Linked DNA regions of Homo sapiens. The protein of the gene in region 2 purifies or fractionates together with the protein of the main gene of each other region. This does not show direct contact. Each region holds a gene or a part of one and is shown on either strand. Other genes may lie near its edges.

What was found. Proteins that work in one complex are often made in the same cells at the same time.
Region 1: the proteins of PCDHB5 (region 2) and PTP4A2 purify together in Homo sapiens (affinity purification with mass spectrometry; 2 studies listed by BioGRID and IntAct, with this or other methods). This does not show direct contact.
Region 3: the proteins of PCDHB5 (region 2) and GAS6 purify together in Homo sapiens (affinity purification with mass spectrometry; 2 studies listed by BioGRID and IntAct, with this or other methods). This does not show direct contact.

Annotation. Positions count from the first base shown.
Region 1 is NC_000001.11:31,914,369-31,921,401, forward strand, and holds part of PTP4A2 (protein tyrosine phosphatase type IVA 2), read right to left. Parts: intron 5,291-7,033; 5' UTR 5,261-5,290; coding exon of another isoform or gene 5,195-5,260; 5' UTR 4,698-5,194; coding exon 4,602-4,697; intron 1,620-4,601; coding exon 1,527-1,619; intron 1-1,526. Other genes in the region: uncharacterized LOC128031832, read right to left, coding at 5,195-5,260.
Region 2 is NC_000005.10:141,130,533-141,138,228, reverse strand, and holds the start of PCDHB5 (protocadherin beta-5 precursor), read right to left. Parts: upstream 3,024-7,696; 5' UTR 2,795-3,023; coding exon 407-2,794; 3' UTR 1-406. UniProt on the Homo sapiens protein: Potential calcium-dependent cell-adhesion protein. May be involved in the establishment and maintenance of specific neuronal connections in the brain.
Region 3 is NC_000013.11:113,833,077-113,840,109, reverse strand, and holds part of GAS6 (growth arrest-specific protein 6 precursor), read left to right. Parts: intron 1-259; coding exon 260-382; intron 383-1,862; exon of another isoform or gene 1,863-1,918; coding exon 1,919-2,041; intron 2,042-4,474; coding exon 4,475-4,597; intron 4,598-5,345; exon of another isoform or gene 5,346-5,426; intron 5,427-5,437; coding exon 5,438-5,559; intron 5,560-6,530; exon of another isoform or gene 6,531-6,618; intron 6,619-7,033. UniProt on the Homo sapiens protein: Ligand for tyrosine-protein kinase receptors AXL, TYRO3 and MER whose signaling is implicated in cell growth and survival, cell adhesion and cell migration.

The DNA of each region.
Region 1 (7,033 bases), on a different chromosome or scaffold from region 2:
AACACATTTTTTTAAAACACATTTGGCTATTTAGTTTTTATTTTCACCAAAATGGACATGAGGAAACTATGGATCAGATATAAGAGGACTGCCTTACCAATAGGTCATTATTCTTTTTGCATCAACTGCCTTCCCAACCACTGACCAATATAATAAAGACTACAGAACTACCTCTCAATAAGAAGCAGGAACATAACCTTAAACCAGTATCTTCCTTGTTACGTTCTTCCTAACTACTTATAAAATCTCCAGTTCTCTTCCTACTACATAACCTTCCCACAATCAAACCAACAGCTCAAAGACATCTAAAATTACAAGATCATTTCATTACGTGCTCCTAAAAGCTGCTCCTACAACTTAGACAACTACTTAGGGAAGAAAGAATAAAATGTTAACTAATCTGATGCTCCCATTTGCTATAAGGAAACAGCCTATTTTGATGCTAAAAAGGAACTTAATTTAAAATAATTCCAATCACTTTGTGCTCAAATTGAGCTAGACAAAAAATCTAATCATACTAAAGCTCCTCAGAAACCTAACAAAAAGTATCAGAAACTATGCTGATTACTCTGGAGGAGGATGCCTTCTACCTCTCCTCATCCTCTTATCCCACCTTTTTGCCTCCTACAAGTTATCCACAAAATATTAAGTAACTAATCTTGTACTTGCAAAGTGGCAGAGTTCCATATGGACTTAAGAATGTCTGATGGAAATTACTTTCATTATATTCAAATTAGTAGCCTAGAAACAAAAGCTAAATATTGTATTAATTTCCTAAAAAATAAAACTTGCAAATTTACATGTTGTTAAAATAAGAGCACACTAAATTTTGCTTTTTATTAGTTGAAAATACTATGATTTGTAGGCTTTAAGAGCACAAATGAACAAAACTGCCAATTTGTTAATCCAAAAGAATTTGAAAGATTGCTATCAATAATGTATTTTCCACTACAACCTTAAAAAAATCCAAAAGTATTACTGCCAGGGTTTTTTTGTTTTTGTTTTTGAGACAAGGTCTTACTCTCATCCAGGCTGGAGTGCAGTGGCATAATCAAGGCTCACTGCAACCTTGACCTCCCAGGCTCAGGCGATCCTCTCACTTCAGCCTCCCAAGTAGCTGGGACTACAAATGTGTGCCACCGTGCCCACCTAATACCAAGTTTTTAATTTTTTTTTTTTTTTTTTTTTTGAGACGGGGTTTCCCTCTGTCACCCAGGCTGGAATGTGGTGGTGTGGCCACAGCTCACTGCAGTCTCAACCACCTGGGCTCAAGTGATTCCCTCACCTCAAAAACCCAAGTAGCTGGGACCACAGGTGTGCACCAACATGCCCCACCAGTTTTTTAATTATCTGTACAGATGAGATCTCGCCACATTGCCCAGGCTGGTCTTGAACTCCTGGGTTCAAGTGATCTTCCCACAATATTGGGATTATAGGTGTGAGCCAGTGCACCTGGCCTAGTTTTATAAATATTTATGTTTGAAAGATACAACTTGTTTTGAAAAATTTAAATACTACACACTCACTAGAACGTGGATTCCTTCTTTTTCAACTGGAGCTTTATCATATGTAGCATCACAAACTCGAACCAAAGTCGTCACTCCATACTTCTTAAGTTCCTTTAAAAAAAAAAAAAATTATAATGGAACTTGTTTTTGAAACCTACAGCCAAAAATGTAGAAATGTACTATTATAGGCCGGGCGGGGTGGTTCACGCCTATAATCCCAGCACTTTGGGAGGCCTGAGGCGGGCATATCACAAGGTAAGGAGTTCGAGACCAGCCTGACCAACATAGTGAAACCCCGTCTCTATTAAAAATACAAAGATCAGCTGAGTGTGGTGGTGCGGGCCTGTAATCCCAGCTACTCAGGAGGCTGAGGCAGGAGAATCGCTTGAACCCAGGAGGCAGATATTGCAGTGAGCCGAGATCGTGCCACTGCACTCCAGCCTGGGCGACAGAGCGAGACTCCGTCTCCAAAAAAAAAAAAAAAAAAAAAAAAAAAGAAATCTACTATTATAAATTAAAACAATGAGATATCATTTTTAGACAAAGATCAGAATTGTTCTCACTGTGGTTATATATTCAATGGACACTCATGAAATCTCAGTGGCAGTGTGAGACTCACCTTTCTAAAGGGCAGTTTGGTAGCATAACGTGAAAACTTACACAAAAGTTCACATACACTGCAACCTAAAAATTCTACTTCTGGGAGTTTATACAAAAGAAATAATTAAAGACATATACAAATATTTAGGTAACAGCACATTCACCACAAACTGGAATGGTGAAAAATTAGAAACCACATTAATGGTCCAAAAATAAGGGAATGATTAAAGAAGTATGGCACATCCATATAGTGAACACTATGACAGCTATAAAAACAATACCAAGGAAGATGGGGAAAGATTTTAAAAAATATATAGTGTGATCCTATCTGTATGTGTATTTATGAATACACACAGATATATGCAGAGAAAAACATCTAGAAGCCAGTTATTAACAATTAAATGTTGTTAAATTCTTTTTGCTTATCTGTATCTTTATATTTTTATGAAATAAACATGCTTTTTTTAAAGAAATAAAATTCTGAAATTAAGAAAAAAAGTGGTATATTAAAAAGACAGCTAATGCAGTTATAGCCAGAAGCCTTGCTCCTTTAAAACTCTCCCTACGGTGAATCCCTAACCCAGTGACTACCTATCTTCAAGGGGCTACCAATATCTTTTTTATAGTTGCAGGAGGACAGTGGCCTGTGCCACTTCTGGAGACTATGGCCAAGGAATCCACAGGTTGAAAATAGTACCACATAATTCAGCCAGGCTTAAAGGTGACTGAACAATCTGAGGGCATACAGGCGTAGAATCAACTTGTACGCTGTGTATACAAAGTTAAGAAGCTCAGGGAATTATAAGTATAAATAAGCAGGCACAGTGATATCCTATAAGAAGGGTCCATCATTTAGTTATCTAAAGTGTAAAATTATTTTAATTGCTAAAGGACTTCATTTTTCACAAAAAGGCCTTCTTATAATACAGACTCAAGAAAGGTAGAAGTATTGTCAGGAATTTTAAAAATGTTTCAAAATACAAATAAAATCCCATTAAAATAAACTCTGTAATAGCCATTCATTGAAAAGTTGCGATAAAATTTTTTATGGTATTTGTGACCTTAAGCAAGTCAAATCCTCTTTTGGTCTCAGTTTTCCCATCTATAAAATGAAAATCACTAAGAGTTCACCCACCTTTCTAACTCTACTCCATAAATACAGCAAGAAAAATCATTTAAACTCAACAACCCAAGAATGATTAAAAAGCTTATGTTCTGGTCAGGCACAGTGGCTCACGCCTGTAATCCCAGCATTTTGGGAGGCCGAGGAAGGCGGATCACGAGGTCAAGAGATCAAGACCATCCTGGCCAACACGGTGAAACTTCGTCTCTACTAAAAATACAAAAATTAGCTGGGTGTGGTGGCGCGCGCCTGTAGTCCCAGCTACTTGGGAGCTGAGGCAGGAGAATCGCTTAAACCTGGGAGGTGCAGGTTGCAGTGAGCCAAGATCGTGCCACTGCACTCCGTCTCAAAAAAAAAAAAAAAAAAAAGGGCTGGGCACGGTGGCTCATGCCTGTAATCCCAGCACTTTGGGAGGCCGAGGTGACAGATCACAAGGTCAGGAGATCAAGACCATCCTGGCTAACATGGTGAAATCCCGTCTCTACTAGAAATACAAAAAATTAGCCGGGAGTGGTGGCAGGTGCCTGTAGTCCCAGCTATCAGGGAGGCTGAGGCAGGAGAATGGCGTGAACCCGGGAGGGGGAACTTGCAGTGAGCCGAGATAGTGCCACTGCACTCCAGCCTGGCGAAGAGCGAGACTCCATCTCCCAAAAAAAAAAAAAAACTTATGTTCAAATGCTTGCTCAAAGAAGTACAAAGAGTTTTTTCTCCTACCAATAGAAAAAATATTAAGGATCTGACATAAAAATACTACCTCTACCACCTTTCCTTCACCCAAGTTTCTGGACCCTTGTATACGATTATTACAACGAAGTAGTCTGGGGGTGCCTTTTCATCAAAGGTGGTTAGAATATCTGAAGTACATACAGAATGGTTTTTAGTGTCAGACACCTAGGCAAGTACATTAGTTCCACCACATACTATGTGCCATTAGGCAAATTACTAAATGGCTCTGAACCTGTTTCCTCATTGGTAAGAGGGAAATAATGGTAGCTACACCTCATAGGGTTTTTGTATTTGTGACCTTAAGCACAAACACTGCTCGTTGCATAATGTGTAACATTGTTTGTTATAATGCTAAGTGCATATCGTGGTCAATAAATGTTAATTATCATTACTGAATGTTTGACCAAAAAAACCTGTCAATAAATGTAGAAAGAACACAGAGAAAACAGTACTAGATATCTCTACAGTCCCCAAATTTCACAAAATGTTCTTGAAAAAATCTGCTGTAACTAACCCAACCCAATTCAAACCAGGATTGGCAGGATGACTCCAAATACAGAATAAATGGCTTTGTGCTAAGAGAATTTTTTAATGGGATTTTACCTAGAAATCAATCCAAAAAGTAGACCATGCCACAATCTTACCTCTGTGAACTTGTTGAGAGTAGCATTGGTAGGGTTGTGAGTTATCAGAAAACGCATGTTCTCATAGGAGATCTCCACAGGGGCTGGACGGTTCATTATGGCAAATAAAAAGTGTGAGCGTGCGTGTGAGTGTGATGGGGAAAGTGAAAAAAAAAAATCAATAAATCTTGAAATGTTTCACAGCAGAAAACATTAAAAAGACCACTAAAATGCCTATTATCAATCAGTGTTTTCTCTATTCAACTTGTTTATTCCTTATGAAGCTTCTCTCTTCAAGATAAGCAAAGTATTTAGAATCCACTTGAATCCAAATTCAATTTGGGCCTCAATTTCTGCAGATGGATACCTTCGGACTCCAAAAAATCCAACTACATACAAAACTTAAGCAGCCTTTACTACATTTAGGCACTAGTGAGACAAGTTAAAAGTGTAGGTCACTTTCCACTTGTTTACTTGATGCTTAATTTTACTGGAGTCATTAAAAGAAATATGCTTGCAATTAAAAAAAAAAAAAGCCAACTATTTCTGAGGCCAGTCTCGGTGTCCAGGAGTCTTCAAGGCAATGTTAATTATGGCACATAGAACCTCCAAGCTCACTTGTCAGCGAAAATGCTGTGCTGAGCCTGGCAGAAGTCTGCCCTCACACTCAGAATCGCCATAAATGTGCAACGTATATTCCAACGAAAAACCTGGAGAAGAAAAGAATAAGTAAAATGAACTAGAGGCTGATGGCACAGTAAACACAAATGCCTGAAGTCAAAATACATTCTTTATAAGCCCAAAGCGATGTGAAATGTCACCAATTATACGTTATTACCATCTATGAAGAATTGGATAAAGGGGTATTATGAAGAGTTTTAAAAATCAGAGACTCGAGCCGGGTGTGGTGGCTGATGCCTGTAATCCTAGCACTTTGGGAGGCTGAGGCAGGCAGATCACCTGAGGTCGGGAGTTTGAGACCAGCCTGATCAACATGGAGAAACCCCGTCGCTACTAAAAATACACAATTAGCCAGGTGTGGTGGTGCATGCCTGTAATCCCAGCTACTCAGGAAGCTGAGGCAGGAGAATCGCTTGAACCCGGGAGGTAGAGGTTGTGATGAGCCAAGATGGCACCATTGCACTCCAGCCTGGGCAACAAGAGCAAAACTCTGCCTCAAAAAAAAAAAAAAAAAAAAAAAATCAGAGACTTGAGCCAGGTGTGGTGGCTGATGCCTGTAATCCTAGCACTTTGGGAGGCTGAGGCGGGCAGATCACCTGAGGTCGGGAGTTCAAGACCAGCCTGGCCAACATGGAGAAACCCCGTCTCTACTAAAAATACAAAATTAGCCAGGCATGGTGGCGCATGCCTGTAATCCCAGCTACTTGGGAGGCTGAGGCAGGAGAATTGCTTGAACCTGGGAGGTGGAGGTTGCAGTGAGCTGAGATTGTGCCACTGCACTCCAGTCTGGACAATGAGAACAAAACTCTGTCTCAAAAAACAAAAAAACAAAAAAAATCAGAGACTCGATTACTTTTAACTCAAATAATTTTTAAATGATTACTAGATACTTAAAACTTCCATGAACTTTTTTTTTTTTTTTTTTTGAGACGGAGCCTTGCTCTGTCACCCAGGCTGAAGTGCAATGGCGAGATCTCAGCTCACTGCAACCTCCGCCCCCCAGGTTCAAGCTATTTTCCTGCCTCAGCCTCCCAAGTAGCTGGGATTACAGGTGCCCACCACCACACCTGGCTAATTTTTGTATTTTTGGTAGAGACGGGGCTTCACCACGTTGACCAGGCTCATCTCGAACTCCTGACCTCAGGTGATTCGCTTGCCTAGGCCTCCCAAAGTGCTGGGATTACAGGCGTGAACTACTGCGCCTGGCCCATGAACTCTTCATAAACTTCACAAAGATCTCCTTATTTTTCTGCTTTGATGGTTAGGTCCTTCACATATACTCTTTGGTTAAAATAAGGTGTACCTATAAATGGGTAGAGGATATTAATCAAAATTTCACTTTGAGGATTTTATTCTTTCTATCCAAAGTATATGTGTTGGCCCTCAATGATGAGACTAACTCATAAGGCACTCTCAAAAAATCCTGTGATCCAACACTGTACTGACAGTACTTTCCTATATGATACTGTAATGTTTCACACAATGCAGTGGACATAACCAACTTGTTACGTAAATAAAGAATTGATTTTTTAAAAATCATTTCCCCTTTTCCTCACAAGTCTTGAGTAGTTGTTACAACATATAAGGAATGAGGAAAGAAGATCAGAAAAATGAAGTGACTTGCCTAACATCACACAATGGAAGTTTTTAACTGAGCCCAAATTCAAACCCAAGTCTTCTGTTAGTCCCGTTTTTTCCAATGTACCACAAATGCCTCCTGACTCAACTAATGTATAAACCTCATCCTCTCCTTTCTATTTCAGTTTACCTTT
Region 2 (7,696 bases):
CAATTAAAATATGATGATGTGAAACATTTTTAATTTTTGCATTTTAGCATCAAATATATAATACTTAAGAGTGTGATGAAATAGAATGGGCAGAATATATAGAAAATAAAATTAATACTTGATTTTATTAAGGTGGTTTATCACAACAAATACCAACAAGAAGAGAAAAAAATCTCAGGAAAATCAACAGCATGCATGGATTTGGAATGACACTATGTAAATAAATGCAATGAAATAAAATTGACTTTTCAACACTTGGACAGCATGAAGTTCAACAGACAAATCCATTAAAAAGGGAAATAAAAGCTCAATCTCAAGGTGAAATTTTTGTCCATGACACTCTCGAATTCTAGATCTGAAAAAGTTTGGGATAAATGGCAGAAAACAACGCGTCATCACGAGATCTCTAATTTAATCCAAAGCTATTCCGGAAGGCAGCAGTTTTCCCTATTTCTTCACCAGCGCCCTGGGGCAAAAGGTTAGGAATAATCGGCTTCAGGAACTTGAACTCGCCGGCCCCTGAGTCTCCGGTCAAACACACCTCGTAGTGGTAGCTCTGGGATAGGGTCCCGGTGCCGCTCACGTCCACCAGATGCCCTGGAAAGGGGCCCTCGGGCACCGAGCAGCGACCGACCGGGGCCGCCCTGCTCCTCCTGCACAGCCGCACTGCCACGAACAGGAGCACCGAAAAGAGGAAGAGCGACGACACCGAGGCCAATGCCACCACCAGGTAGACAGTGAGCGAGTCGGCCTGGGCCTGGGCCGGGGCCGCCTCCGGCAGCGGCAGGTAGGGCTGGGAGAAGCCGTCCACCAGGAGCACGTGCAGCGTGGCGGTGGCCGAGCGCGGAGGCTCGCCATTGTCCTTGACCAGCACCACCAGCCTGTGCTTGGCCGCGTCGCGCTCGCTCAGCAGCCTGGCGGTGCGCACCTCGCCATTGTGCGCCCACATGCTGAACAGCCCGGGCTCCGTGGCCTTGAGCAGCTGGTACGACAGCCAGGCGTTCTGGCCCGAGTCACCGTCCACCGCCACCACCTTGGTCACCAGGTAGCCCGGCTCGGCCGCCCGGGGCACCAGCTCGGTGCAAGGCGCCGAGCCGTTCTGCAGCGGATACAGCACGAAGGGCGAGTTGTCGTTGGCGTCCAGCACCAGCACGCGCACCAGCGCCTCGCTGCTCAGCGCCGGGGAGCCGCGGTCTGTGGCTCCCACGCGGAACTCGAACGCCTGCAGGGCCTCGTAGTCCAGCGACCTGAGGGCAAACAGGTGGCCGTTGTCCGCGTTGATGGAGACCAGGGAGGCGAGGCGCAGGTGTGGGTTCTGGGGCGGCAGCAGCGAGTAGGTGACCTGGGCGTTGGTGCCTGAGTCTCTGTCTGTGGCGCTGACACTGCCGATGTGCAGGGCGGGGCTGTTGTTCTCTCGGACGAACAGGGTGTAGGAGGTTTGGGTGAAGGCGGGGGCGTTGTCATTGACGTCGGAGACCAGGACCGTTATGTTGTGCTCGGTTTTCAGCCTGGGTGTCCCCATGTCGGTGACAGTGATGGTGATGTTGTACTCGGCTTGGCTCTCTCTGTCCAGTGTTCTCTGTGTCACTAGGGTGTAAAAGTTTTTTAATGTGGGCTTCAAAAGAAAGGGGAGATCATTCTGGATGGAGCAAATCATCCTACCGTTGTCCCCGGAGTCTGGATCAGAAACACTGAAAACGGCAACTACAGTTTCCGGGGCATTTTCTGGGGTAGGGCTGGAGAGCGTAGACATGGTGAGTTCAGGGGCGTTGTCATTCACATCCACCACTTCTATAGCCACAGTGCATTTTCCTGAAAGGCCCCCACCATCTGTGGCTACAATTTCCACGTTATAATATGGAGTTGCCTCGAAATCCAATGCCCTTTTCAGGCGAATTTCTGCTGTTTTCTCGTCTATTACAAATGGTTGAGTAACTTCATCGCCTTGGAATAGAGCATAGGCTACACTCCCATATGCTCCTGCATCTAAATCTCGAGCGGAGACAACGACAACTAAGGAGTTAAGGGGGCTGTTCTCGGGCACCTGTACCTCATAGAATGATTGTAAAAATTCGGGGGCGTTGTCATTATTATCCAAGACGACAATGCGAATTGTGGTGGTCCCGGACCTGGGCGGAGCCCCACCGTCCAGTGCAGTGAGTGTTAAGCTGAGCTCAGGCCGCTCCTCCCGGTCCAGCGCTTTGTCCAGCACCAGCTCTGGGTATTTTCTGCCATCTCCGCGATTATGCGTAGCAACATGAAAGTGTGAATTTGGGCTGATTGTGTAGTTCTGAACAGTGTTGCTACCTATGTCAAAGTCCTGGGCTATTTTTAAGGGAAACACAGTCCCTGGCTGGGTGCTCTCTGGGATTTTTAGGAGCATTTCCTTCTCTGGGAACTCTGGGGCATGGTCATTTATATCTGTGAGCTGCAGATCAGTTTGAAAAAACTGCACTGGATTTTCTAGTAAGAGCTGGAAATGCAATATACAGGGTTCTGTCGCCCCGCACATCACCTCCCGGTCTAGTTTTTCATATAGAAGCAAATTGCCGGTCTTTATATCAAGCTGCAAGAGCTCTTTGTTTCCTTTGTAATGCATTCGCGCGCCCCGAGTGGCCAGTTCCCCCACCCCAAGACCCAGGTCTTTTGCCAGGTTGGCCACAGAATAGCCACTTTCTGTTTCTTCTGGTATGGAATACCTAACTGCCTCAGAGCCAGCCTCCCACAAAAGCAACAATATAGCAAGAAACATAACTTGCCTTTTCTGTGGCGTTTTTGCTAGCGCAGTCTCCATTGTTCAGACCCGGTCCAGAAGGCGCAGTTTAACTCCGTACACAATCCACCCAGATGATTTGCATAAATAACCGCGAATCCGATCTTTCTTGACTGATTTCCACAAGAACGAAGCCCACCCTGAAGATCTAGCCACTAGATCTTACCTAAAATGCGTCCTTCTTTTAGAGTTTGGATTCCCCAGCTTAATGGCGTCTGAGTTATCCGCAGAGCCCACTATCCACACTCTTAGCCTGCAGCGCCACCAGGCGTCCTAATTTACTATTGCATATAGTATTTGCCATTTCATCCTAAATTCTAACTGACGTGTATCCATACCCTTTTGTCACATAAGCTCTCCCGATGGTATCTCCAGCTCTTAGTTGCTGAAAGTTCTAAATAAATGTTGTGGAGTTAATTTTCAGTGAGAAAATACTTTTGAGAAAAAAACTAAAATTATATATTAATCTCCATAAAAGTACCCTTGAGTACACAAATACACTTTGTTTGGTGTTTCTTATTTGATTATATTAAATAAGTGATCAGGAATATCTATAGAAATTTAAAGTTTAAGAAAAATTACTTTCACTTTGAAGTAAACACCAATAACACCCAGAAAATGGCACAAATCATAGGTGTATAACTCAATGAATTTTCGCAAAGTGAACACACTCCTGTAAGTAGAACCTAGATTAAAAATACTACCCAAACCCAAGTCCCCACCTGCTATTGTCTGGTTACCACCCTCTCCCCAAAAGATAAGCACTGTCCTGACTTCTGTTGTCATAGGTTTTTTTTGCTTTTTTTTTTTTTAACTTTATACAAATGGAGTTATAGATTGTTACTCTCGTGTGTCTGGCTTCTTCTCCTCAATATTATGTTCAGCAAATTGATCTGTGGCATCTTGTTCTTATTTGTTTTATTCTCATTGCTTTATATCATTCTGTTGTATGAATATACTATGATTTATTTATTCATTCTCCAGTTGATGAACATTGTTTTCCAGGTTTAAGCTCTTTGGGGTAGTACTGGTATAAACATCCTTGTACTAGTCTTTTGGTGACCACATATATGTGTTTATGTTGAATATATTCAAAGGAGTTGGATTGCTATGCATTAAGATGTGCACATATATTTTGCTTTAGCAGATAATGAGAAAGTTTTCTCAAGTAGTCGTACTAATACCAGCAAAGTATGAGAGTTCCAGTTGCTCCACATTCTTGTCAACATTTGATGCTATCTTTTCCATTTTAAACCACTCTGGTTAGTGTATGGTGATATGATATTGTAATTTTAGTTAGCATTTTCCCTGATGATTAAACAATTTGAGCACATTTTCATGTTTATCAGCCATTAGGATACAATCTTGTGAAGGGCTTATGCAAACCTTTTTACTTTTTTGGGGGGAGGCATTTGCCTGTTTGCTTATTGATCTGCAGAAGTTTCTCATATATTCTGGGCATAAGTCCTTTTTAAGATATATGTATTGCAAATATCTTTTCCCACTCTATGGTTTTTATTTCAAGTCTATTATGTGTCTTTGATGAATAAAATTTCTTACCTTTAGTCAGATTTGTCAATAAGTTTCATGTATGATTAGCATTTTTTTGTGTTCTATTTAAATGTTCACATACTCCAAGGTCATGAAAATATTCTTGTATGATGTATTTTGAAAGATTAATTATTCCATTTTTCATATTTAAAGCTATAATCAACCTGAAATTAACTTTTCAAGTGAATGAGTTTGGAGTCAAAAGGTTTAAAATGTAAGTATCTGAATGCTTTAAACCTTTGCACCATCTATTTAAAAGACAATCCATTTTCCATTGTTTTTGAAATGTCATCTTTGTTATAAATTAGGTAACCATAGCTCTGAAGATGTTTTATTCAATCTTGTTTATCCTACAATAACTCATTGTGTTAATTATTATAGCTTTATCATGAGTTTTGTTATCTGAGAAGTAAGTTCTCCAGTTTTTTAAAAGTAGACTAAATTTTTAGAATGGTTTTTGGTTCACAGCAAAAATGAGAGTAAAGTACAGAGATTTCATATATGCCCCTGTCCCCACACAAGCACAGCCTCACCCATTATCAACATCCTCCACCAGAGTGGTTCATTTGCTACAGCTGATGAATCTACATTGGCACGTCATTATAACCTGGAGTCCATAGTTTACATTAGGGCCCATTCTTGGTGCTGTATATTCTATGGCTTTGGACAAATTTAAAATTATGTGTATTCACCTTTATAATATCATACAAAGTAGTTTCACTGCTCTAAAAATCCCCTGTGCTCCACTTATTTATACCTCCCTCCCTCCCCTAGAACCCAATGCAAGTGGATTTTTTTACTGTCTCCACAGTTTTGCTTTTTCTAGAGCACCATGTAGTTGAAATCACACAGTATGTAGTCTTTTCAGATTGGCTTCTTTCACTTAGTAATATCCATTTAGATTTCCTCAATGTCTTTTCATGGGTTGTTAGGTCATTTCTTTTTGATGCTGAATAGTATTCTATGGGTTGAATGAACTGCAGTTTGTTTATCTATTCACCTACTAAACGACATCTTGGTTGCTTCCACGTTTTGGCAATTATGAATGAACTGCTATAAACGTCTCTGTGCAAGTTTTTGTGTGAACATAAATTTTCAACTCCTTTGGGCAAATACTAAGGAACATGAGTGCTAGATAACATGGTAAGAGTATATTTTGTTTTGTATCAAACTGCCAAACTGTCTTCCAAAGTGTCTGTACCATTTTGCATTCCCACCAGCAATGAATGAGAGCTCCTTTTGCTCTCATTACCAGCATTTGGCACTGTCAGTGTCCTGAAGTTTGGTCATTCTAATAGGTGTGTAGTCATATTTCACTGTTATTTTAATTTGCATTTCCCTGTTAACATATGATATGGAGCATCTTTTCATATGTTTATTTGCCACCTGTATACCTTCTTTGGTGGGTGTCTCTTAAGGTCTTTGCCTTATTTTTAAATTGGGTTCTTGTTGCTGAGTTTTAGTCGTTCTTTGTATATTTTGAATAACAGTCCTTTATCAGATATGCCTTTTGCAAATATTTTCTCCTAGTTTATGTCTTGTCTTTTCATTCTCTTCATAGTATCTTTTGCAGAGCAGAAAGTTTTAATTTTAATGAAGTCCAGCTTATTAACTCTTTATTCTGCGGATTGTGACTTTGGTGTGGTATCTCTAGTTTGGTTCCTTTTCATCAGGGTTCCTTTGGTTATTACTGTTTTTGTATTTTCAAATAAACTTAATGCTCGGCTCATTAATTTTCACAAAGAAAGCTGCTGGAATTTTGTTTAAGATTTTATTGAATCTATAGATTGACTAAGAGATAACTGACATATTCCCAACATTGAGTCTTCCAATTAGTGAACATTGTATATTCCTGTAATTATTTAGATCTTCTTTAATTTTTCTCATATTTTAGTTTTCAATGTAGAAGTCTTATACATATTCAACTAGATTTGTTTATAAATAGCTGCTATTTTTGAAATTATTGTGCATAATGTTTAAATTTTTCACTTTTTTTGTTGCTAAATAGAAATAGAACTCATGTTTGTATGTTGACCTTGTATCCAGTGGCATTGTTAACTTCATTTATTAATTCCAGTAGCCTGTAGATTCTTCATGGCTTGCAAGGTATACAAGTATGTCCACTTAAAAAGACATTTTTATTTCTTCCCTTCGAATCATAGTGCCTTTTATTCCTTCTTTGCTTTATTCCGCTGTTTAGGACCTGTGATAGAATACTAAATTGGAGAAGAAAAGACAGGTATCCTTGTTTCATTCTTGATCTCCAGGGGAAAATTTTTGAAAATTTATTGTTAATGATGTTTCCTGTAGGTTTTTAAAGTCACTCTGAAAGTTCCCTTTGATTTTAGTTTGCTAATAATTTTACCACTACTGTGTGTTGAATTTTATCACATGACTTTTTTCTGTATCCATTGAAATAATCATGTTTTGTTCTTTATCTTTTAATATGGTAAATTACAATGATCAATTTTCAAATATTAAACTGCCTCTGTATTCCTAAAATAAACTCCATTTTCCAATTATTATTTTTCTTTTATACATTTTAAAATTTTATTTGCTAATATTTTTAAAAATGAATTTTCCATACATATTTATAAAAAAGAATAGTAATTTTCTTTTCTTATAATATCCTATTCAGGTTTGAATGTTATAACCTATTCAGATTTATGCTGGCACCCAAATGATTTGGAAAATGTCTATTTTTCTACTCTCTGAAGGAGTTTGTACAAATTAGTGATAATTTTGACATAAGTATTTGGGAGAATTCACTGCTGTGAATTAGAGTGGGAAGGTTTTTAATGAACAACTTTAATTAATATAATAGATATGACTAATCAGATCTTAATTTCGTCCTGTTTCAGTTTCGGAAAATTGTGTTTTTAAAGGATGGTTTCTGTTTTACATAAATTGTCAAGTTTATTGGCATAAAATTGTTCATAATATTTCTTTTTTATTTTTTAAATGTCTGTAGGTTGGTAGTTGTGTTTTTTTTATCCTGATATTGGCAGTTGGTGTTTTCCCTCTTTTTTTCTTGATTAGTCTAAGAGTTTTAAATTTTAATCATTGTAGAAACCAACTTTTTGCTTCACTGATTTCCTCTGTTGTATATTTGTCATTTATTTTGTTTCTGCCTATGTGTGTGTGTATAAAATTGTCTTCCATCTTTATTTGCATTTGATTTGCTGTTCTTTTTCTAGCTTCTTGAGATGAAAGCTTAGATTATTGATTTTTAGCCTTTCTTTTCTAACATGTGCATTTAAGATTTTAAATTTCCCTCTAAGTACTGTTTTGATACGCCAGGTGTTAATTTTTCCCCGTTCAAAATATTTGGAAATTTCTGTTGTGATTTCTTTTTGACTCATGGATTATGCA
Region 3 (7,033 bases), on a different chromosome or scaffold from region 2:
CACCTTGCGTCCAGGCCTGCTGGCACTCCCTCCCAGTTGATCTGAGTTTTCCTGGAGCCGGCCCCAGGGCCCGCCAGCCTATTCTGTCAGCCCTAGGCCAGCACAGAGGGCTCGGGTGCCCAGGGGCTGCCTCAGCCTGCGCCCCTCAGAGCTCCTCCGGGCTGGACCCGAGACCCCACAGCCGCCCCGATCTCAGCTGCGTTGGGCGCGCAGGGGTGGGGCAGCTGAACATGATTTTCCACTTTGTGTCCCCAATCAGACCTGCCTGACCAGTGCACGCCCAACCCCTGCGATAGGAAGGGGACCCAAGCCTGCCAGGACCTCATGGGCAACTTCTTCTGCCTGTGTAAAGCTGGCTGGGGGGGCCGGCTCTGCGACAAAGGTACGTGAGGCTGAAGACAAAGGCGGGGTCTCCCTCCATCTCCGACCCTGCCCTGATCCCCGCTCCTCACTCCCACTCCGGGGCACGGCCATCCTCAGGCTGCTCTCCGACAGCCCCAAGGAGGCTGCAGCCCTGAGGTATCCTGGAGCCCCAGGAGAATTGGGAGGAGCTGCAGTCTCCTTTCTGGGAGCAGGGCTGGAAGGAAAGGAAACACCAAGTGATGCCTCAGCACCCACTGATTGAAGGGCGGGGGGGGAAATTTCACCTCTGACCGTCCTTGAGTGCAGACCTGTGGTGTCAGTGGCACCCACTGATTGAAAGGCGGGGGGGAAATTTCACCTCTGACCGTCCTTGAGTGCAGACCTGTGGTGTCAGTGGCACCCACTGATTGAAAGGCCGGGGGGAGATTTCACCTCTGACCGTCCTTCAGTGTAGACCTGTGGTGTCAGTGAAGACCCTGGAGGAAGAATAGCTCCAGGGCCTGGTGGAGACCCATAGTGGAGAGCCCAGCAGGCCAGCCTGTCCCCTTTGGCAAATCCTACCCCACAGGTGGCCTGGGAGGGCTTTGCTAAGGAGTGGCCAGCTCTGGCCTGGCCTTGTCTGTCCTCGGCACCCAGAGGTCACTCCTGGCCTGCAGCCTCCTCCTGCAAGCACATGGGCATCCAGGGAGCTGAGCCCTGTGGGCTGTGACTGCCAGCAGCTCCCCAGGCTGAGACCGCAGCTGGGGATCCCCCATGCCCTCCCACCATCTACCTCCACACGCAAGGCCAGGACCAGGGGCCATGAAACGCTAGGGCTGCTGAGTGGGGTGTGAGGTCCAAGCCCTGGGGTCCCTCTCTGCTCCAGGGCTGGGCTGTGCACCTCTAGGATCTCTCTCTGCTCGGGGGCTGGGCTGTGCACTCCCAGGCTCTCTCCCTGCTCCAGGGCTGGGCTGTGCACACCCGCGGTCCCTTCCTCCTGCTCCAGTGCTGGGCTGTGCACCCCCCCGGCTCCTTCCCTGCTCCAGTGCTGGGCTGTGCACCCCCGGGCTCCCTCCCTGCTCCAGGGCTGGGCTGTGCACCCCCGGGGTCCCTTCCTCCTGCTGCGGGGCTGGGCTGTGCACCCCCGGGCTCCCTCCCTGCTCCAGGGCTGGGCTGTGCACCCCCGGGGTCCCTTCCTCCTGCTCCGGGGCTGGGCTGTGCACCCCCGGGCTCCCTCCCTGCTCCAGGGCTGGGCTGTGCACCCCCGGGGTCCCCTCCTCCTGCTCCGGGGCTGGGCTGTGCACCCCTGGGCTCCCTCCCTGCTCCAGGGCTGGGCTGTGCACCCCCGGGGTCCCTTCCTCCTGCTCCGGGGCTAGGCTGTGACCCCTGGTCTCCCTCCCTGCTCCAGGGCTGGGCTGTGCACCTTTGGGATCTCTCTCTGCTCCAGGGCTGGGCTGTGCACCTCTGGGCTCCCTCCCTGCTCCAGGGCTGGGCTGTGCACCTCTGGGATCTCTTCCTACCGTAGCCAGGGGCTGTGCACCCTTGGGCTCCCCTTCAGGCCTGTGCTTGTTCCCAGATGTCAACGAATGCAGCCAGGAGAACGGGGGCTGCCTCCAGATCTGCCACAACAAGCCGGGTAGCTTCCACTGTTCCTGCCACAGCGGCTTCGAGCTCTCCTCTGATGGCAGGACCTGCCAAGGTAAGGCCCTGGGGTGAGGCCTCTCTCCTCTCTCCTCTCCCCACCTTCTATTTTCGGTCATGTCTGCTCTTCTGCAAGCGGCTGCTGCTGGCTGGGTTCCTGTGGTTCTGGATGGGATGGGGCATCCTGCAGAGACTACACAAGCCCAGGCCAGCCGCAGCACAGGGAGCTGCTCGGCACCACACCAGGATGACTCACCCGGCATCTGAGGGCCAGGACTCAGGGGGCCGGCCCAGCCCATGAGGCCACACTGCTGGCTGTAGGGCCTCGTCCATTCCCCAGAGCCTCACAGAGCCTGGAAGTGCTCCAGGCACTTGTGTAGTGAGCTTGTGGGTCAGGGCTCCAGGCTAGGGTCCCCCCGCCGTCCACTCTCCCCAGCATCCCCAGAAGCACCCCGTTGTTGGTCTCCCTCTGTCCACTAAATATAGCCCTGCCCTCCCCACTTCCTTTCATATTTCAGTCTGGGGTTCCCTCAGCCCAGGGCCAGAGCTGGGGAGCCCCAGGACACCCCAGAAAGTCACTGTGAATGTGCGCGCCCCCGACGCTGTTCCAGGTGCTGCTGCTGCCACTGGCCCTTTGCCACTTTGCAGGGGGAGCACCTTCCTCCTCCCTCCCCACGTTGTATCTGGACATGCCCAGGCGTGTCCCTGAGAGTTTCTGGCATAGTTCTTAGCGCTGCTGCTGACTGTCCAGGACACCGAACTGCGTGGACAGGACAGACAGTTGCTCAGGGAGAAACAGCCCCAGGATCTGGAGAGTGAATCTGACCAGACAGGAGGGGCCACACCCCATCCCCCGATTTCAAAAGGCAGCTGCTATTTCTGTCCACTTTGGTGGTTCCCTTCCCTGACCACCCAGGAGTTAGCCCTGTGTGCAGATGACGTGATTCCCATCTTAACACATAAACCCATTTCCCCGCCGAGGACAGAGCCCCTCCCATCACTGCTCTATCCCTGACCTGGAAGACAGCAGCACCCCAGGTTTAAAGAGAGGTGAAGACTAGGCCGATCCTGAGAGATGACGTCTAAAGCATCTCCCGTGGGTCCCTGCACCAGTCGGGCACTCCCGGCAAAGTCTAGGCTCACAGTTACTGCCCACAGTGACAGAGGCATTCCCGTCCTCTCCTCCTCCTCCCCATCTTCCTCTTCCTCCCCACCATTCCCCCTCCTCCTTTCCCCACTCCCCCTCCTCCTCTCCCCACTCCCCCTCCTCCTCCCCCCCACTCCCCCTCCTCCTCCCCATCTTCCTCCTCCTCCTCATCTTCCTCCTCCTCTTTCTTCTCCTCCTCCCCCCACTCCCCCTCTTCCTCCCCATCTTCTTCCTCCCCCTCCTCCTCCTCATTCCCCTCTTCTTCCTCCTCATTCCCCTCTTCTTCCTCCTCATTCCCCCTCCTCTTTTTCCCCCTCCTCCTCCCCCATCCTTATTTCCCCTCTCCTCCTCCTCCCCCACCCCTCCCCACCCCCTCCCTCACCCCTCCCCACCCCCTCCCTCACCCCTCCCCACCCCCTCCCTCACCTCCTCCCCCACCCCTCCCTCACCTTCTCCTCTTCCTCCCTGCTTCTCCTCCTCCTCCCCCTCCGTCGTCCTCCCCCTCCGTCCTCCTCCCCCTCCGTCCTCCTCCTTCCCTTCCCCATTCTCCTCCCCCTCCCCCTCCTCCTCCCCCTCCTCCTCCTCCCCCTCCTCCCCCTCCTCTCCATCCTCTCCCTACCCCCTCCTCCTCCCCTCCTCCCCTCCCCCTCCTCTTCTCCCCCTCCCCTTCTCCCCCTCCCCCTTCTCCCCCTCCCCCTTCTCCCCCTCCTCCTCCTCCTCTTCCTCCTTCCCCTCCCCCCTTCCTCCTCCCACTCCTACTCCCCCTTCTCCTCCCCCACCTTTCTCCGTGCCCCTGCCTTTGCTCTCCTCTGGTGACTAAAGGGCTCTTCATTTCAGGGTTGCCCCTCCTACCCCAGGGTGCTTGGCCGTAAACAGCATCTGTCCCACATTAGATGCTCAAGTCTTAGGATTGTGGTTTAACCCGGTAGTGAAAATTGATTGAAACCAGTAAATGCTTCTCTTTGGGGTTGGGGTTTTAGTTTCAAATGCCCCCGGGGGGTTACTTTTTACGGCCCCGTGTCCTGTAGCACCGTCATTTAAATGGAACAGCACAGCGTGCACCGCCGCCCCCCACCCCTCCACCAAGCAGGGCCCTTCCCAGCTCTCCACCTGCTGGGCTGAAGTCAGCCTTCCCAGCCGGGCCTTGATCAGAAGCGTGCACCAACACCCCGGGAGCTGCCCGGTCAGGGGAGGAGGGCAGGGAAATGGGGCCAGGGCGCGCTGGCCCCACAGAGTCTGGATGCGACCTCTGGGTGGTGCCCTGGCCAGTCCCTGCAGCCGCCTGCCCCAGCCCCGTCTGAGATGCCGCTGTGCTGCGGTTGGCCGGTTTTTTTTTGCTTGCAGACATAGACGAGTGCGCAGACTCGGAGGCCTGCGGGGAGGCGCGCTGCAAGAACCTGCCCGGCTCCTACTCCTGCCTCTGTGACGAGGGCTTTGCGTACAGCTCCCAGGAGAAGGCTTGCCGAGGTACCCACGCCACGCGGTCACCCTCGCTTTCTCTGACGCCCAAGTCTAGACACGGGTGCCAGTCACTGCCCGAGCCGGTTGCTAACAACCGGGTGCTTCTGGTGAAAGAAAGTCTCTTTCTCCCTGTTTCTATCAGCCTGGTAATGGCCTGTGCTACCACCATGCCCGCACACACGTGAGCACACACAGGCACCCATGCCCCTTGTGCACATGAACGAACCGCACACATGCATATACACCGCATGTACACACGTGTGTACCCTTCTCCACCTGCATAGACGGGGCCTCTCCCCAAAGGGACGGGGAGCAGCAAGCCTCCCTCTACTGTTCTCTCTTTCCAGCCGCCATGGGGAGGGCCCTGTTGGCCGTAGAGCCTCTAAGAGGGGCCGTGCCCCCAGTGATGGGAACAGTGGGGCTGAGTAGGCAGACAGAGAGGGTGGGGAAGCCCAGGCTGCCTGCACTGACCTCCATTTCCCACCACAGCTGTCGGCCCCTCTGTGCTCCGGGGGACACCTCACTGCACAGCCCAGACCCTGTGCTTCCCAGACCTGCCTTCCACACCGGCCCGGCAGCGGGGGTGGGTCTGGCTCGTTGGGAGCACCCTCCTGGGACACCTGCGACATTTTTATTCCCTCAAGAAAGAGCCCGGGCAGGAGCAGGCCGAGGGTGCAACCTAGCTTTCCAGTGGGGGGGGACGCGACCCCCAAGCCGCCCCCGTTAGAATCTGCATGTAATTCCTTGAGCGCACCTTGCGTGTGGTTTGAGCAATCGCGGTGTGATCCCACGGCGGGACAGCGTAGAGGCCTCCCCGGCTCACCGCCGCTTCCCTCTGGCTGGCAGATGTGGACGAGTGTCTGCAGGGCCGCTGTGAGCAGGTCTGCGTGAACTCCCCAGGGAGCTACACCTGCCACTGTGACGGGCGTGGGGGCCTCAAGCTGTCCCAGGACATGGACACCTGTGAGGTAGGCGGCCCCTGGCCCCGCGGGCCCTTCACGGTGGTTCCGGGGGCCCTCGCCGGTGGGGGCTTTCGGGAGAAACACTTCCGTGAAGACCTGGCCTTTGCTAAGGTGTTGGGGATCTCCAGGGCCATGTGGAGGTTTGGGATGAGAAACGCTTCTGTTCCCTGGAAGATGTTTGGTTGTATTTATAGAGTCTCTATGGCAACTCCCAGCTCACAGTGGATCAGCCTGGTGTGGACCCCAGTGTGACACTCACGGGGGCACGGTCCCCACTCTGCCGCGTGCCAGGGAGCCAACGTGACCGACCTGTCACACCGGTGCCTGTCACACCGACCTGTCACACCGGGGCCTGTCACACCGGTGCCTGTCACAGCATGACCTACCTGTCACACCGGGGCCTGTCACACTGGTGCCTGTCACACCGACCTGTCACACCGGGGCCTATCACAGCATGACCTACCTGTCACACTGGTGCCTGTCACACCGACCTGTCACACCGGGGCCTATCACAGCATGACCTACCTGTCACACCGGGGCCTGTCACACTGGTGTCTGTCACACCGACCTGTCACACCGGGGCCTGTCACAGCATGACCTACCTGTCACACCGGGGCCTGTCACACTGGTGCCTGTCACACCGACCTGTCACACCACTGCCTGTCACACTGACTTGTCACACCAGTGTCTCACACCGACCTGTCACAACAGTACCTGTCACACTGACCTGTCACACCGGTGCCTGTCACACCACTGCCTGTCACACTGACTTGTCACACCAGTGTCTCACACCGACCTGTCACAACAGTACCTGTCACACCGACCTGTCACACCGGTGCCTGTCACACCACTGCCTGTCACACTGACTTGTCACCGGTGTCTGTCACACCGACCTGTCACACTGGTGCCTGTCACACTGGTGCCTGTCACACCGACCTGTCACACCGGTGCCTGTCACACCGACCTGTCACACTGACCTGTCACACCGGTAGGAATGCAGTACCCACATGTGGACGTTTCTGGGCAGGGCGGCTCTTGTCTTTCCTCTTCAGCCTGGGCCTGTGCCTGGGGGTTGATGAGAGTGAGCATTTATTTAAAAAGCAAAACCACAGGTGGAAAGAGTCACCAGGACAGCTTCTCGGAGTCGCAGACCTGGGATGCAGCCGTGGGGCTCTTGGGTCTGGGCTGCGACGTTCAGGGCTTCCAGCCAGCCCTCGCCTTGAGGTTCTTTGCCTCGCTGCCTCATGTACTCATGCAGAGGGTGTCGGACCCCTGCGAGATGTCCAGCTCACCCTGGCTGCCCACGGTGGGCAGGGCAGGCCTGGCTCAGCCCCAGCCCCTCCATCTTCCAGGGGTGTCAGCTCACACCGGCTTTGGTTCTGTCCCCCTTCGGGCAGCGTGGAGAAACCACAGCCCAGAACAGGGAACTTTCCAGGACAGCCATCTTCAAGGCATCCATATCTATTTCATAATAGTGTAT